Linked DNA regions of Homo sapiens: region 2 is linked to region 1. The links come from fine-mapping of genetic effects on gene expression. A gene starts in region 1. The other region holds a variant in brackets. All regions are shown on one strand. Distances are from middle to middle. Region 1 holds the start of LINC01616 (long intergenic non-protein coding RNA 1616). Region 2 holds the start of LOC107984321 (a long non-coding RNA gene).

What was found. PIP is the estimated chance that this variant, and not a neighbour inherited with it, causes the effect.
Region 2: its variant is fine-mapped to the expression of LINC01616 in lung (TOPMed, PIP 0.95).

The regions. Positions count from the first base shown.
Region 1 is chr11:29,981,118-29,984,048 of GRCh38, reverse strand. It overlaps LINC01616 (long intergenic non-protein coding RNA 1616), which reads left to right and starts at 1,656. Exons shown (of 1, transcript NR_132652.1): 1 at 1,656-2,931.
Region 2 is chr11:30,018,719-30,021,649 of GRCh38, reverse strand. It overlaps LOC107984321 (a long non-coding RNA gene), which reads right to left and starts at 1,086. Exons shown (of 3, transcript XR_001748159.2): 1 at 1,056-1,086. The variant A/G (reference allele first, on the strand shown) is at 1,170.

The sequences.
Region 1 (2,931 bases):
CCAGGGCCTCTATTTTTGGTTTGGGATATAGCAATTGTATGCGGACATGGCTTGGTCCTCCATTCTTGGCTGGGAATTCTCATTAAAGAGATCCTCTACCATTAACTCACTGTTTGCAAGATCTTGGTGATGAAGATTAAGAGAGGAAACATCTGCCTTTCCAGAAAGGAACCCATGTCATTATTTTGTTTCTGTCTCTGCATTTGGACTTCAACAAATAGAGGTTTGTGGGAAGAGAAAAAGAGTTTACGCATGCTCCTATGATCAGGTGTTGCTCATCTGTGAGTGGGCAGATGAGTGATGCGTGGGTCAAAGATACAGGATTCCCCTGGGGGCCCTGGCTACTCTTAACAACAGGTTGAAGTTTTGCTTTAGGCTAAATGTCTAGAAGATAAAAGTAAAAGTCTACAAACTATTGAAGCTTTGTGAAATTTTAGAACCTACTCAATATGTCTTTTGGAAGAGATGGAAACTGGGAATTTGATAAGAATATATATGAATCCATCTAACCAAGTTTTGACATGTGTTGGGGTGGGATGATTTGTTGGGGAGTATAAGGACCTGGAATGTTTTTTTCATCCTGTTGTCAACCCAGTTTCTCATTCCGCTGTGGCTTTACCCTATTTAAGTTCTATCTGCTTTCTTTAAATATATGAATGTGGGTGTTATGGGATGGTTAGTCCAGATGAGTGTTGGATCATACCCTGTACTTGACTTATTTATTTATTGCAGTTTTCAGGGAGTAATTGATTATGAGTTGGCTCTGTGTCCCCACCCAAATCCAATCTTGAATTATAATCCCCACATGGTGAGGGAGGGTCCTGGTAAGAGGTGATTGGATCACGGGGACAGTTTCCCCATGCTGTTCTCGTGATAGTGAGGGAGTTCTCACGAGATCTGATGGTTTTAAAAATGGCAGTTTCTCCTGCGTGCATGTACTCTTGCTTGTTGCCTTGTGAAGGAGGTGCCTGCTTCCCCTTTGCCTTCCACCATGATTGTAAGTTTCCTGGGGCCTCCCCAGCCATGTAGAAGTGTGAGTCAATGAAACCTCTTTTGTTTATAAATTACCCAGTCTCAGGTAGTATCTTTATAGCAGTGTGAAACAGACTAATACAGCAATTATGTTCTTATTGTGAATGATATAAAATAGTCACAAGTGAGGGCAGAATTCTGTTCTCAGTATTTGCGAATCATCTTGAGCAATACAATAACTCCAAGAACTTCTAACTCTAAAGCATGAGCTGAAGGCATTAAAATCTTTTTTAGGATGTGCTGCTATATTAAAATGAGTCAGTTTCAAACTCTAGGTCCCTGTTTGTACTTTGACTCTAGGCAAATATACAGGAGCCTTGTGAATACCATCTAATGTACCAAAAATTCACTTTGATACAGGTAATTCTGGAGCCCTAACCAAGATTTTCATTTTTCTTTTACTTTTTTAGTTTTAACCAGATATAGCAAAAGGACTTCACTGTAATTCTGTCTTATAATATGGATCCCATGGATGAGGTAGTACAAGTTTCTGTGTGCTGCACATATATATATGTGTGCGTATATATATATTTCCTGTGTTGCATATATATATATGTGTGTGTGTGCATATATATATATATATATATATATGTATGCTACAGGGAATTATAATCTGTAGCAGTTTTCTCAGAGGATCTCTATAGGCAGTTAATAGTAGTTGAAAAAGGAACTGTTTTTGAATTTTTGAGTTAAACAGTAAAACTAGTTTCTTTGTGGTACTTCTCAGAGCCTACAATCTGCTAATGTGTGTAGTGAATTTCCATGAGGATGATGTGTGGACTTTCTCACATTTTTAAATGTAACCCCTCCTCCTTTTATTTTTTGGCAGAGTATCTTATTGGATTTTTGTTTCATAGAATTTGGTCAATGATATTTACAGGATTAGAAATAAGCATTCTTGAATTTTTTTTGAAATTCTATGAAATAGCTCTTGGATCTGGGCTTCTAAGAGTATAGTTAATGCTTCTAAAACTTTAATATGCCTGTACATTTGCTGGGTATCTTGTTAATATGCGGAATTTACTTCAGTTGGTCTCCATGGGGGCAGTGATTTTGCATTTCTAACGTGTTCCCAGGTGATACTGATGCTACTGGTGTTTTAGCAGTCTTCGAGCAGTAAGGCTCCAGATGTATTTAAGTGCTTTCCTAGGTGAAAAGTGTTAAAGATAACCTCTGCCACCTGGCCTGGAGGTAAGGTGTTTAGAGAGGCTTCACCTTAGGGCACTGGAAGTTGGAGCTGAGTAAGTAGTTATACAAGCCAGATGATCTACTTGTATATTACTAATAATCTGTTTATTTTTCATTGTATACTTTTTCCTGGCTATGAGAGATACACAAACATATTTTCAGAATAAAATAGCAAATACCTATATGCTTTGACACTTGCTATGTGTCCAAAATATCCCATGGCCTTTTGAGAGGTCCTTGGTAGGGGAGTTTAGATCTCTGTTCTGTAAGCAATAATATTGAATGGGAAATACACATGTGGAATGCTTAGTTAGACCTCATTTAACCCCTTCCCTATCTCAACATTCATGTCCTCAGCCGAGGACAAAGACTTAACTGACTTTCTATGTGAAAATGTATCAGTGATTCAGAAGGGGTTTTAATTGTTTAAGGCTGGGATAACAATTAAGGTTTGCCTTTTGTGTTAACTCTATACATTTGTTCTTCAATATCTAAAGGGATGTCTATAGAAAGATTCAAGGCTATGGTCTGAGCTTGACGAGAGTGACACATTAGATTAATGATCTCTCTCCTGGGCATGGGAAGGAAAATATCCTCACAGGAGCTGAGCTGCATATTTGACACCCCTGATAAAGCATTAGGTTATGCTGACACCACATTGTCTACAGATGATCTTTGCACCTTCTGATTTGCTTAGTATCCATTGTCAAA
Region 2 (2,931 bases), 38 kb before region 1:
GCCTCCAGCTCTGTAAGAAATCAATTTATATTGTTTATAAGCTACTCAGTTTATGTTATTTTGTTATTATAGCAGCTGAAATGGAATAAAACACTAATTATAGTAAGAAACAAATATGCTCTTCTGATATCTTAAGTTTTGACCAGTGCCTATATGCGTAAGATAAATTAGGAAGTGGTGGTGAACAGTCATTGAAAAACCCAAGAAAAAACTAGCTGAGTGACTCACATTTTATAAGGAATGATGGGCTGATCAAAATATCCCCATCCATAAATTTGGATATGGGAGCATGGAACCAAATCTCCAAGGCCTTCTCACCACCCCCACGCCCATCACTTCAGAACTTTAAAAGTGAGATAGATAGTTGAGAGGCTGGGGTGAGCAGGTGAAAAAGCAATCTTCTAGTTCTCTCACAACACATTCACTGAACTTTCTTGGCAAAGGGAAGCCTCTTCCATTATTCATTCACATTCTACTCTGGGTCAAGTACAACGCTAGTTGCTCAGGATATAATGTCTGTTCTCAGTGAAGTATCACAGGCATGTTTGGGGAGATAGAGGAGTAAACAGAACATTGCAATTCACTGTGGACCACAGTCCTCAAAGAGAACAAAAACATTTATAATGGGCCTAGCTTGTATCCCACAGGGCTTCCTATCGTGCTTTGTACAGAGACGATCTGTTGGCCTCTGCCACTTTCTATATAAGCAAAGGCTTCACGGTGTGATCTGGAACATTTGTACCACCACTGAGAGAATTCAAAGCCAGGGATACATTCTTTGTGGTAATAGGTGTATTTGGTGGTGGAGAGCTTAAAGAATTTTGACTAGTTGATGACTAAGAAAGGCAAGAAAATAATTTTTTCCTCTTTATAGAAAAGAGGGGCTGGGCACAGTGGCTCATACCTGTAATCGTGGTGGGCACTTTGGGAGGCTGAGGCAGGAGGAGAACTTGAGGCCAGTTTGAGACCAACCTGGTCAGCATAATGAGACCCTGTCTCTACAAAAACTAAAAATAAATAAATAAATAAAAATAACTGGGCATGGTGACACATACCTGTAGTCCCAGCTACTCTGGAGCCTGAGGCAGGAGGATCACTTGAGCCCAGCAGTTAGTTTGAGGTTGCTGTGAGGTGTGATCATGCCAGTGCACTCCAGCCTGGGTGACAGA[A/G]TGAGAACCCATTTCAAAAGAAAATAAAAAGTAAACAAGGTTTGGGGACTAAGACAAGGTAGATTTTTATTGGTCTCAATCAAAGAATCTTTTTGCTACTGTTTATGGGTTCCTAGAAATTCCTAGGATAATTTCAAGGAGAGAAATAGAATGTTTCTTGTTTGCTTTATGAATTAATTATTTAAATGGGCAAAGAGGTAGGGGTGTGTGTGTGCATGTGGTGGGAGAAGGCTGGGAGGGGGCATGCTCTTCCCAGTTGGTCCTAACCTATCTCTAGCTCCAGTTAGTTGCTTCTGTTCCATCCCAGCACTATGTGCCTGTGCATTCTCCATGGCGGCCACTCCAACTCTTATGATTTTTCAGACAGTGCTCTCTCTCCTTGGGAATTCTTGCTTACCGCCTCCACACTAGATGCTGCTTTACTCTTTGCACCAAGGAGCAACATTCTCATACCTCCATCATAACACAAATCCCCTTGCTTCATAATCTGTATATGCATCTGTGACAGCCACTAGCTTGTATGAACAAATGGGCATAGACCACATCACTAGCACGGGGTCAGTCTACACTGCAGAGTCAGATATGTAAGGCCTTGTTCTGCTACATAATTAGCTATATAACCTTTGGGCAAGTTAGCTAATCATTGTAAGCCTTCATTTCCTTTTCTATAAAATAGTGGTTATAATAGTACTTATCACATAAAAAAGCATTTAGTTATGCAAATAAAATTACATAATATACATTCAAAGAACTTAGCACAGAGCCAGGTAGGAGGCAGACACTCAGTTAATCTTACCTGCCTTGCGCAAGTCCTCCTGAGAGTAGAGTTTTTCCTCAGCAGCATTCCTGTCGTATTTTAGTAATTCAGATTACCAACACCTAAGAAATGCAAATATTAAAGTCCTCAGGCATTGAAAACTTTAAAATTATCTGGGATAGGAACAAACAGCAAAAGGGAAGCATAATTCATAAAGTTTAAACACGACTCAATTAAAATATCCAAGCTTCAATACAACTATCATCTCTAGTACATCATTCCATCTCACTTTTCATCTCCCTGAAAGCACTGCATAGCTGTACCGGATTGATCTCATAAACTGCTTTTGGGAAACAGGTCCCAGTCCTGCTTTTTACTATCCCAAGAAATATCCTTCTAATGAGCCAACAATAAATATTACCAGTTATTTGCTTCTGGTACTTATGAAACTGCACAGTGATATCACATTGTGGAGGTACAGAGAGGGTTTGAGGCGAGTGAGCATGATCGTTCTCACTTTTAGAGAAACCCGGTCTTGCTGCTCTTCGAATGAACTGCAGTAGGGAATAAATTGAGGCAAAGAACGTCTCTAGAGCCAGCATGAAGATACCTTTCTCTCAGCTCCACCAGGGTTGAGGCCAGGGGGTTACAGTTAAACTTATTCATGCCAAAATTTCAAGCTGCACTAGCTGAAAGACGTTGGAAAAACCAGGGTGCACTCCAGGTTTCATTTCTTCTTTTTCTTTCACACTGATTACAATTCGATTTTGTGTGTGTGTGTCCGGTTATTTGAAAAGATAAAAGAAAAATCAAACAGCAACAAAAAGCAGCCCTCCAGGTGTCCTTTTCCGAGCCCGCAACGGTTAGGTGAGTGAGTGCAAGGCATATCTATAATTCAGCTCGGGAATATTTCCCTTAATAATTAATTGAGCATCACAAAAGGAGGAGGCCCAATAGAGCCCTTGAACAAAGCTGCCGCCCCGAGGACGACAGTGACAGTCCTGG